Linked DNA regions of Homo sapiens. The protein of the gene in region 1 purifies or fractionates together with the protein of each later gene. This does not show direct contact. Each region holds a gene or a part of one and is shown on either strand. Other genes may lie near its edges.

Region 1 (3,971 bases):
GCATTTTCTGAAGACCATTTATTATTCCATTATTAGAAAACATAGTCATAAGATATTTTCTCCCAAAATCAATCCACTCAATATTTTTTAGTGCACAGTAACGTAATTATGGCCTCAAAAAATAACCCATTCTCAAGGGCACTTGAAAAACGGAAATTCTAAAATGAATTAATTTTTTAAAATCTCATGATACCTTTAAGACCGTGTTTCAGGCAATGTTCCATAACAACAAAGAATTGCTGCAAGGGGGGATAGTCAGAATCCAAAGTGCGGCCAAAGCTCAGAGCAGATTCAATGAGTCCTTTGATACTCAGTTTAGCCATGTTTAACAAGTTTGCTCTCTCTACAGCTGTGGGGTCTTTTGTAGCTGAAAACACAAGAAAGGAATCCAACATCATTTGTAAGACATGACAATGAAAAATATACAAACCATTCCCTTCCCCTATAAAAACCAACAGTAGTTTGCTGTTCCTTGGTTGACAAATTCTCCCCAGCTAAACCACACCCTTGATTAACTTCTCTTTACATCTCTCACATATACTGTAAAAAATTTCCGGCCAGGCGCGGTGGCTCACGCCTGTAATCCCAGCACTTTGGGAGGCCAAGGCGGGTGGATCATGAGGTCAAGAGATTGAGACCATCCTGGCCAACATGGTGAAACCCCGTCTCTACTAAAAATACAAAAATTAGCTGGGCATGGTGGTGCGCGGCTGTAGTCCCAGCTACTCGGGAGGCTGAAGCAGGAGAGTCACTTGAACCCAGGAGGCGGAGATTGCAGTGAGCTGAGATAGCGCCACTGCACTCCAATCTGGTGACAGAGCGAATCTCCGTCTCACAAAAAAAAAAAAAAGAAAAAGAAAGAAAGAAAGAAAAAAGAAAATTTCCATGACCACTCCAGCCAAAGTTAATGAATTATTCTCAAGATCCTGCAAATCTGCCATTCTCCTGTATTTAACTTTCCTGGTACCTCTTCATAGAGAATGAGTTTTTTAAAATGATCTTCTATGGAGATAAATTTGGGGTGAGAGACAACAGGTTTAAGGGCCTCATGCAAAAGGTAGATAGCAGGTACGGTCTTAGGATGAATTCCAAGGCAAAAATGTTCAGAATAAACTGGCAATAAAATAAAAGGTAGTTAAAATTCTAGGATTCCAGTGTCATCCACAACAAACATGACAGGTAAAATACACTGACAAGGGGACACAGAAGAAGCCGTCCAATTCTTTCGTCTACCCTCTTTCTGTCTGGCTTCTTCATTCTGACTGTAGTTCTGTATTGCATGACTGTTTTATTTTCAAAGAGAAAATAAAAGCAGAGACCAGTTTTACATTAATGTTCCTCACCCATCCACACAGTTGAGGATGCCCACAGCGCCAGTCTGAATACCAAGTTAATAGATGCAAATTCTAAAAGGCCTGATTTTTAATTGATATTTTTAAGACACAGTATCATCAAGTAAGATATTTTCAATTCACAAAAATATTGTCCTCCTTCCCGCAAATTTTATTCTCAGTTTACTTAGAAATTCAGACGCTTCCCCATCATCTCATCACTGTTGTGACTGGTGGGAATACCTTCAACAAACACAGATGACAAAACTAAGGTGTGGAAAAACGAAGCACTTAGTATAACATTTCATAATCTCTGACAAATTTACAAGTAATCAATGTGCCCGTTTTTCCTTCACTGAACAACAACAACAACAAAAAACCCAGAGTCTCCAATGATCTAGTATTCCAGCTCCGATTTCTAGATAGCTAGGCATGAAGCCTGACACTGAATCCTAAGCAACCTAAAATGCAAACAGCCACAACTGCTATGGCCAAACTGCCTGGTGGAAAAATGTCCACACACGAATTCCTTCAAATCTGCATCGTGGTCTGACTCCCACTATTTTTCGGGAGTGAAACCACTTCATGTTTCATAATCCGTGGCAACTCTCATTTTTAACACAGCCCATCATAATTCCTAACGTGCGATGCGACAACCACACAAAGGGTGTTTTGCAGCTGCTGGGAGGCAGATCGGTGCTGGGCACCGGCAGTTCCCACGCCGAGGGGCGTTCACACCGCGGCCACGCCCCGGCTGCGCTACAGGACTTCTCCGGCCCGTACGCGACCCCCAAACCCGGCCGCAGGCGCGCAAGGAGTACCAGGGCCAGTGCCCGCACCTTGCCGGGGCCTAGAGCCCCTTCCCTGCCTCTCTTCCTGCCCCCTCCCCCCAGCAAGGCTGCCCAGAGGCCTGGGGGCCCCCCAGGACCATCGCGGCGGGCTCACCCAGGCTCCTGCGCGTCAGCATTCCCCGTCTCCCGCCCTCGGCGTCAGGCACCCAGGCCAAAACCTGAGATGCGTCTTCCCTCCGCCACCCCCAAACCTGAAAAGTCATCGCCCCTCCCCGCCTGCTCCCCGACCCGGGAGTGACACCCTGCCTGGCCCTGTCCTCGCTCCTGGACGCCGTGGCACCTCGAGCCCTCGGCCACTATGCCTCAGAACCCGGGCGGGAACGGGCCGGAACAAGGGAGGGGGCGCGTTGCCATGACGACCCCGGGAGCCCCCGAGTCCCAGGCAGTCCCCGCCCATCCTGGGTTCGGGCCCCAGTTCCGACTGGCGGCCTCGGCGTCTCCCCCAGCTCCCAGTCCACCCCGCCTGGCCGCGGCCCTCAGCCCGGGACTGAGGGCCTAGCGTTCGGTTTCGGCCCGCTCGCCTTACCCATGGCGGCGGCGGCTGCGCGGTCTCGGGCGGAGGCTCCCTCGGCCTGTCCAGCAGCTCCTTCCAGGCGCTCGGCGGCCACCACCGCATCTGCAGCCAGGCCCGCTGCAGCCCACAGCGCCCCCGGCGGCGGGAGGGCGCCCGGGCGGCCCCAGGGGGAGCGGCGCCCCGGGCGGGGCGGGGACCCGCGGACCCTGCGGCGGGCGGGAGAGAAGCCCGCCGTCTCTAAGCCTCCTCGCATCCGCTGGGACCGCGAGGAGAAGGAAAGGAACGTGAAGGAGACCACATGTGTGAGGAGCCAGAGTGCTGGGCCCTCGGTCCCGTGTCCCGGGGGCTTCGCTGGAGCGCGAAGGCCGGATTTCAAGGGGCGGCCGGCCACACGCAAACGTTGCTTCCACCGGGCTGGTGGGGCCTGATCTAACACGCCTGACTACTGCCCATTCACCTTCACAAACACAAAGGGGACCAAAAGAATTTAGAAAATCTGAAGCAATTAACAGTAGGCAGAAACCTAATAAAACTAGTTAGTCCCAAATTACGACTTTTTTTTGTTTTTTGGGTTGTTTTTTTTTTTTTTTTTTTGAGATGGAGTCTCGCTCTGTCACCAGGCTGGAGTGCAGTGGCGTGATCTTGGCTCACTGCAAACTCTGCCTCCCGGGTTCAAGGGATTCTCCTGCCTCAGCCTCCTGAGTAGCTGGGATGACAGGCGCGCGCCACCCCGCCCGGCTAATTTTTGTATTTTTAGTAAAGACGGGGTTTCACCATGTTGGCCAGGGTGGTCTCGATCTCTTCACCTGGTGATCCGCCCATCTCGACCTCCCAAAGTGCTAGGATAACGCCTGAGCCACACAGCCCGCCCTAAAACAATTTGGTAAAGCTCATTACAAAAAGCTAAAGTGAAAAAAGAGAGAAAACAATTCAAAAATATTTCATTATGTGCCACAGCAATATCCACACAAGCACTAAAATTCAGACCTCGGCTGGGTATGGTGGCTCATGCCTGTAATCCCAGCACTTTGAGAGGCTGAGCTGGATAGATCACGAGGTCAGGAGTTCGAGACCAGCCTGACCAACATGGTGAAACTCCGTCTCTACTAAAAATACAAAATTTAGGCAGACGTAGTGGCATGTTCCTGTAGTCCCAGCTACTCGGGAGGCCAAGGCGGGCGGATCACCCGGTCAGAAGTTCGAGACCAGTCTGGCTAACATGGTGAAACCTCATATCTACTAAAAATACAAAAATTAGCCGGGCGTGGTGGCGCG
Region 2 (3,632 bases), on another chromosome or scaffold:
TGATGGCCTAGGGGTTGGCTACAGGGCTGTTGTCAGCTGCAAGGGAGGCCCTGTAGGCACAGGTGGGATCCAAGCCCCCGGCCTCAACTCCTGGAACCATGGGGCAGGCGCGGCCTCCTCCAGGGCCATGGCCCAGAGTGAGGCTGGTGTAGGACGGCTGGCGGGGGGTCTATGCTCAGGGCGGCCAAAGACACAGCTCCTCCTGCTCTGTGGCTACCTCTGCCCACAGCTGCCCTGCTTCTCCTCCTCCCCACAGGCCTCAACACCCTCCCCCAGCCTCCCATTCCCTGCTGGACGCCCTCTCCCCAGGCCGCACAGGGCTGGTTCCTCCGAGGCACCTGGCTTCCAGTGATGGACCTCTGGCCCTGCCCCAACCTGCGCACTTGGGGCCTGACAGGCGTTCCCCGATTCATCCCTCCAGGAACAAGAAAACCAAACACTGCATTTCCTGCAATAAGTGTGTGTCCGGCTTCGACCACCACTGCAAATGGATCAACAACTGCGTGGGAAGCCGGAATTATTGGTGAGGGGCACAGAGGGGATGGCCGGCACGGGCCAGGCTTGGGGGAATTTGGAAGGGAGGGGTCTGTGGGCAGGGGTCATCGTGTTGAAAGGGTGGAGGGTCCTCTTGGGGCCGCGTCCCTGTCCTGATGTGGTGGCGCTTGGTGCCTGCGTGCCCCGGCCTCCTGTCTGGCTCTGGGGCTGTGGTGCAGCCGTCCCTGGACAAGCTCATCCGCATAGAGTAAGTCCCTGGAGGCCCCCCGGGGGCACTTGCGGGGCCACGCTGGCTGAGGCCTCCTGACCACGCTGTCCTGGGCTGGGCTGCCTTCTCTCCACCCAGGCTGAGGCTCATCCAGCACAAGGGTGGGGCCACGGAAGGGCAGTGGGCACCCAGCGCAGATGGGCGAGAGGTGTTTCCCCTGAGCATGGTCGAGGCTCACAGATGAGAGGTGTTTCCCTGAGCACGGTGGAGGCTCATAGACGAGAGGTGTTTCCCCTGAGCACGGTGGAGATGCAAGGAAGAGAGATGTTTCCCTGAGCACGGTGGAGGCTTACAGATGAGAGGTGTTTCCACTGAGCATGGTGGAGGCTCACAGGCGAGAGGTCTTTCCCCTGAGCACGGTGGAGGCGCAAGGATGAGAGGTGTTTCCACTGAGGATGGTGGAGGTGCAAGAACGAGAGGTGTTTCCCCTGAGCACGGTGGAGGCTCACAGATGAGACGTGTTTCCCCTGAGCACGGTGGAGGCTCATAGACGAGAGGTGTTTCCCCTGAGCACGGTGGAGGCTCAAGAACGAGAGGTGTTTCCCCTGAGCATGGTGGAGGCTCAAGGACGAGAGGTGTTTCCCCTGAGCATGGTGGAGGCTCACAGGCGAGAGGTATTTCCCCTGAGCACGGTGGAGGCGCAAGGATGAGAGGTGTTTCCACTGAGGATGGTGGAGGTGCAAGAACGAGAGGTGTTTCCCCTGAGCACGGTGGAGACTCACAGATGAGACGTGTTTCCCCTGAGCACGGTGGAGGCTCAAGAACGAGAGGTTGTTTCCCCTGAGCACGGTGGAGGCTCATAGATGAGAGGTGTTTCCCCTGAGCACAGTGGAGGATCCAGGGACTCTCAAGGCCCCGTGTGCTGAGCCCCGGCTGTCTGCAGCACTGTATTGTGAAGATCACCAGGGAAAAGAACCACGCCTGCTCCCCAGCTACTCTGTGCTGACCTGAAAGAGGCCTTGGTGTGCGTGGGAGTGGGGACCAACGTTGCCTGGTGTCACAGGACGCACCGGGCGGTCCCTGCCCTGCCTCCCTGCCATCCCGTCTGGAGCACAGCATGTGTCCAGAGAGGCTGAGCAGCCCGGCAGGGACAGAGAGGTTGCATGACCGCACAGCGAGTCCAGAGGCTGCGTGAGATGGTAGGGGCCGGGGAGACCCACCGGCCTCCTCCCCTGGAGAAGAGCAGCTCCACGATGGCCAAGGTGGGGCCAGCTCCTCTGGCTCATGCTAGCCCCAGGTGCCACTTCCTTCTGGACTCATTCTGCTCTGGTGCCTCGAGCTGGCTCAATCTGGCGGGTCCTGGTGGGGAAGGTGAGGGGGTGAGGGCCCACAGGCAGGTGGCAAGGAGAGGGTCTGCCTTCCTCAGGAGGGGTGCTGGAGAGGGACCACGTGGGTGCCAAGTGTAGACACCGCCTGGGTGTGGGAAAGGGGCATCAGGAGAGCAGGGCCGGGGTCATGGGCGCCCTCAGCTCCAGGCAGCAGCCAACGCCGGCATCTGTGCCAACCTCGCTTCTGTCCCTTCATCCGCCAGAGGCGGAGAGAGCAACGGCATTGAGAGCAAGATGAGGAAAGTTGAGGAGCTGATGGCAGAGCCCCCGCGAGGGAGGCCGAGCTGATGGCGGAGCCCCCATGGGGAGGCCCAGCTGATGGCAGAGCCCCTGTGAGGGAGGCTGCATACTTCGTAGTGATAAGAGAGGAAGGGGGACGGAAAGAAGGCAGGCGGCGCTGGTGTCCTGGGAAGACTGTGAGCGCTGGCCTCGGACTCTGCAGGTTAAACACAGGCAGCAGGGGCAGGAGGCTGTGCTAACCAAGAGGAGAATGTCCCTGGGTGGCTGCGGGGAGAGGAGGCCCCGCGTGAATGGCTCTGCCCCATCCTGTGGGCTTTTGTCTCTGTGGTCTTAGAGACCCGCCTTCTTTCCTGGATGAAGAGGGGAGTCCTGTCCAGACAGTAGGATGAAGATGAGGGGTCTTTACTCCCCACAAGTGGGCTCAAGCCCAGGAGGACTGGGGGCAGGGTAGGGCGTGTCCGCTGCCTGGAGGGGCTGCTGCTTGGGAAACCTAAGCTGTGAGAGGGAAGGCAGTATGAGGGAGCAGCAGTCAGGGAGCCGCTCATGCCTGGAGCCACCCGTCACCCCTGGATTATCCAGAAGACTCTTGGAGGGAGGAGGAGCGCGGGGAAGGCAGCTGTGCCCTAACTGCCTCTTCGGAGGACTGCGGCATTCATGCTCTGGCCTCCAGTTGAAAATAGAAAAAGGGATTTAAACAAGCTTAGGTGAACATAATACAATGGAAAGGATTAAAGGAGGTTAAAGGATACTTTTAAAAAAATATCATCATGGCAGAAAGACCAAGGGAAGATGGTTTAGTCAAAGTATGTTCCAGGAACTGCTGCCCAGAATTGGTTTTTGTGGATGGATTATTCTCTGCATCTTTTGAGCAAAGACGAGAGACTGGGAGTGGATTTGGTCTCACGTCTACAGCATGGACATCGCTTTTGGCTCAGATTTGCACGAGACCCTTGGAGAAGGGGGGACTGCAGCCGAGGTGTGGCCGGGCTCCTCCAGGGCCTCCTCAGCCCGAGTTCCCTTTGGGTGCAGAGATCCAGGTCCCTGAGCCTGCAGGCCCTCCTGGGTGCCACGGCACTCTCGTGGCTCTCCCCTTCCCTGGCTTCAGTGCCTTTGCCCAGCATGGTGCCATGGAGACCCCAGCACAGACCATGCTCAGGGCCCCCCGAGTGGACCGAGCCCGCGTGCTCCTTGGCTGGTAGGGAGGCCTGTCTGCATCAGGTGGAGTCGGGAGGTGCGGGCAGAGGCCCCAGAGCTGTGACACTGGAGACGCCGTGTGACCCTCATGCTCCGCTGGTAGGCTT
Region 3 (3,632 bases), on another chromosome or scaffold:
AGCAGTTCACAACCAGCCTGGCCAACATGGTGAAACCCTGTCTCTACTAAAAATACAAAAATTAGCTGGGTGCGGTGATGCATGCCTGTAGTCCCAGCTACTCCAGAGGCTGAGGCAGGAAAATTGCTTGAACCGGGGAAGCGGAGGTTGCCGAGAGCCGAGATCACACCATTGCACTCCAGCCTGGGCAAAAAGAGCGAAACTCCCTCTCAAAAAAAAAATTACAAAAAAATTAGCCAGGCGTGGTGGCAGGTTCCTGTAGCCCCAGCTACTTGGGAGGCTGAGGCAGGAGAATTGCTTGAACCCAGGAGGCGGAGGTTGCACTGAGCCAAGATCGCACCACTACACTCCAGCCTGGGCAACAGAGCAAGACTCCATCTCAAAAAAAAAAAAAAAAATCAGAAAGAACAAAAATGTCCATCCACAGGAGAATGAATAAACAGAATGTGGTCTATCCACACAGTAGACTATTATGCACCCACTGAAAGGACTCAAGCTCTGACCCAGGCTGCAGCGTGGATGAACTTTGAAGACCCCTGGCTCAGTGACAGAAGCTAGACACAAAAGACCACATATTGTAGAATTTTATTCTTATAAAATATCTAGAATAGGCAGATCCACAGAGACAGGAAGCAGATTTGAGGTTCACAGGGGCTGGGGACAGGAACGAACAGGATTAGCAGTTGTGGGGTTCTGAAGGGTTTTTGTTTTGTTTTGAGATGGAGTTTTGCTTTTGTTGCCCAGGCTGGAGTGCAATGGTGTGATCTCGGCTCACTGCAACCTCTGCCCCCTACCCAGGTTCAAGCGATTCTCCTGCCTTAGCCTCTGGAGTAGCTGGGATTACAGGCATGTGCCACAACACCCGGTTAATTTTTTTTGTATTTTTAGTAGAGACAGGGTTTCACCATGTTGGGAAGGCTGGTCTTGAACTCCTGACCTCAGGTGATCCACCTGCCTCGGCCTCCCAAAGTGATGGGATTACAGACGTGAGTCACCGCGCCTGGCCCATTTGTTTTTGTTTGTTTGTTTGTTTAATTTTAGTAACAACAGGATTTCACCATGTTGGCCAGGCTGGTCTCGAACTCCTGACCTCAGGTGATCCACCTGCCTCGGCCTCCCAAAGTGCTGGAATTACAGGTGTGAGCCATGATGCCCGGCCAGGTCCTGAGTTTTGTTTAGGGATAAAAATGGTTCTGGAATTGCATTATGGTGTTGTTTGCACATCTGTGAATATATTAAAAACCATTGAACTGTATGAATGAGTGAAAGCTTATGGTACGTAACTCACGTCTTGGTAAAGCTGTTTTTTTGTTTGTTGGTTTTGTTTTGTTTTGAGACAGAGTCTCGCTCTGTTGCCCAGGCTGGATGGAGTACAGTGGTGCGATCTCGGCTCACTGCAAGCTCCGCCTCCCGGGTTCAGGCCATTCTCCTGCCTCAGCCTCCCGAGTAGCTGGGACTCGCCACCATGCCACCACGCCCGGCTAATTTTTTTGTTTTTTTGTTTTTTTAGTAGAGATGGGGTTTCACCGTGTTAGCCAGGATGGTCTTGATCTCCTGACCTCGTGATCTGCCCACCTCGGCCTTCCAAAGTGCTGGGATTACAGGTGTGAGCCACCGTGCCCGGCTGGCAAAGCTGTTTTAAGAAGAAATAAGTGAGAGGGCTGGAGGAGATACACACAGACCCTCAAGAGGAGAGAAACATTGCTGGATGCATTGCTGCCAGACAGGTGTGCATTTACCTGCAAAGCATAAGAAAAAGGGTCCAACCTGGCCAGGTGCAGTGGCTCACGACTGTCATCCCAGCACTTTAGGAGGCCGGGGCTGGTGGCTCACCTGAGGTCAGGAATTCAAGACCAGCCTGGTTAACATGGTGAAACTCTTTTTGGGGCTACAAAAAGTAAAAAATCAGCCAGGCGTGGTGGTGCATGCATGTAATCCCAGCTACTCAGGAGGCTGAGGCAGGAGAATCGCTTGAAGCAGGGAGACAGAGGTTGCAGTGAGCCGAGATCACGCCATTGCATTCCAGCCTGGATGACAGACTGCGAAAAGAAAAGAGGGGAGAGGGGAGAGGAAAGGAGAGGAGAGAGGGAAGGAGAGGAGAGAGGGAAGGAGAGGAGAGAGGGAAGGAGAGGAGAGAGGGAAGGAGAGGAGAGAGGGAAGGGGAGAGGGAAGGAGAGGGGAGAGGGAAGGAGAAGGAAGGGGAGGGGAGAGGGGAGAGGGAAGGGGAGGGGAGAGGGGAGAGGGAAGGAGAGGGGAGAGGGGAGAGGGGAGAGGGGAGAGGGGAGAGGGGAGAGGAGAGAGGGAAGGGGAGGGGAGAGGGGAGAGGGAAGGAGAGGGAAGGGGAGGGGAGAGGGGAGAGGGAAGGGGAGGGGAGAGGGGAGAGGGAAGGGGAGGGGTGAGGGGAGAGGGAAGGGGAGGGGTGAGGGGAGAGGGAAGGGGAGGGGAGAGGGGAGAGGGAGAGGGGAGAGGGGAGAGGGGAGAGGGGAGAGAGGAGAGAGGAGAGAGGAGAGGAGGGTCCCACCTACAGCCCCTGAGCGCCCACCTGTGGTCTGTCCGTTGCTTCAGACAATTCAGTGCCCAGAAATTTCTGGACAGCCACCTCTGCAGGCCAGACACCGCCAAGAACAACCGTTGTGCTGATTTTCTAAAATTTCCATCCTGCCCGCTGAGCCCCGGCGGGGCCCAAACCGCAAGCCTGTGCCTCCTGTGTCAGGGCAGCTGGCATCAGTTAGAGGTAATTTCTTGATTAGTCATGCGCGTTCCTCAGCAGTCCTGGCTGTCTGTCTTCCCCGGGGGCTGTCCGGTGGCCACAGGGCACAGACTCGAAATGGCAACAGATCTGGCTGCCAAGAGGCTGCTTGCTGGATCCCCAGACCACACAGGTACAGACACGAGGGTGGCCGGGTGAGGCCGCCACCGTAGGACTTTCAACAGCACGTGGTGTTTAAATGTGTGCGAGGCACTGCTGCCTACGTGGAGAGTTAAAGCAACAAATTCCAGCCCAGGTGTGTTGCTCACACCTGTAATCCCAATGCTTTGGGAGGCCGAGGCAGGAGGATTGCTTGAGGCCAGGAGTTTGAGACCAGCCTGGGCAACATAGCCAAACCCCATGTCTACAGAAAATAAAAATATTAGCTGGGCAGGGTGGCATGCACCTGCAGTCCCAGGTACTCAGGAGGATTGCTTGAGGCCAGGAGTTTGAGACCAGCCTGGGAAATGTAGCAAAACTGTGTATCTATAAAAAATAAAAATGTTAGCTGGGCACGGAGGTACTGTCACCTGTAGTCCCAGCTACTCAGGAGGCTGAGGCAGGAGGATTGCTTGAGGCCAGGAGTTTGAGACCAGCCTGGGAAACATAGCAAAACTCTGTATCTACAAAAAATAAAAATATTAGCTGGGCGTGGTTGTACTCTCACCTGTAGTCCCAACTACTCAGGAGGCTGAGGCAGGAGGATTGCTTGAGGCCAGGCGTTGGAGGCTGCAGTGAGTTACGTTTGCACTACTGCCCTCCAGCCTGGGCAACAAGGCAAGACCCCATATCTATAAAACAAACAAACAAAAGAACAATTCCAGGGCACCCCTGTTTCCAGCTCTGTCCACTTTACATTCTCAAAATAAAAGTAGTGTCCCTT

What was found. The genes of interacting proteins can lie anywhere in the genome.
Region 2: the proteins of RUFY2 (region 1) and ZDHHC11 purify together in Homo sapiens (co-immunoprecipitation; one large-scale study listed by IntAct). This does not show direct contact.
Region 3: the proteins of RUFY2 (region 1) and P2RY8 purify together in Homo sapiens (co-immunoprecipitation; one large-scale study listed by IntAct). This does not show direct contact.

What each region holds. Positions count from the first base shown.
Region 1 is NC_000010.11:68,404,478-68,408,448, forward strand, and holds the start of RUFY2 (RUN and FYVE domain-containing protein 2), read right to left. Parts: upstream 2,801-3,971; 5' UTR 2,713-2,800; coding exon 2,709-2,712; exon of another isoform or gene 2,386-2,708; coding exon of another isoform or gene 2,277-2,385; exon of another isoform or gene 1,348-2,276; coding exon of another isoform or gene 1,344-1,347; intron 989-1,343; exon of another isoform or gene 968-988; intron 368-967; coding exon 194-367; intron 1-193.
Region 2 is NC_000005.10:844,405-848,036, reverse strand, and holds part of ZDHHC11 (palmitoyltransferase ZDHHC11), read left to right. Parts: intron 1-256; coding exon of another isoform or gene 257-421; coding exon 422-523; intron 524-3,632. UniProt on the Homo sapiens protein: Endoplasmic reticulum-localized palmitoyltransferase that could catalyze the addition of palmitate onto various protein substrates and be involved in a variety of cellular processes.
Region 3 is NC_000023.11:1,467,604-1,471,235, reverse strand, and holds part of P2RY8 (S-geranylgeranyl-glutathione receptor P2RY8), read left to right. Parts: intron 1-2,565; exon of another isoform or gene 2,566-2,734; intron 2,735-3,632. UniProt on the Homo sapiens protein: G protein-coupled receptor for S-geranylgeranyl-glutathione (GGG), an endogenous metabolite present in lymphoid tissues.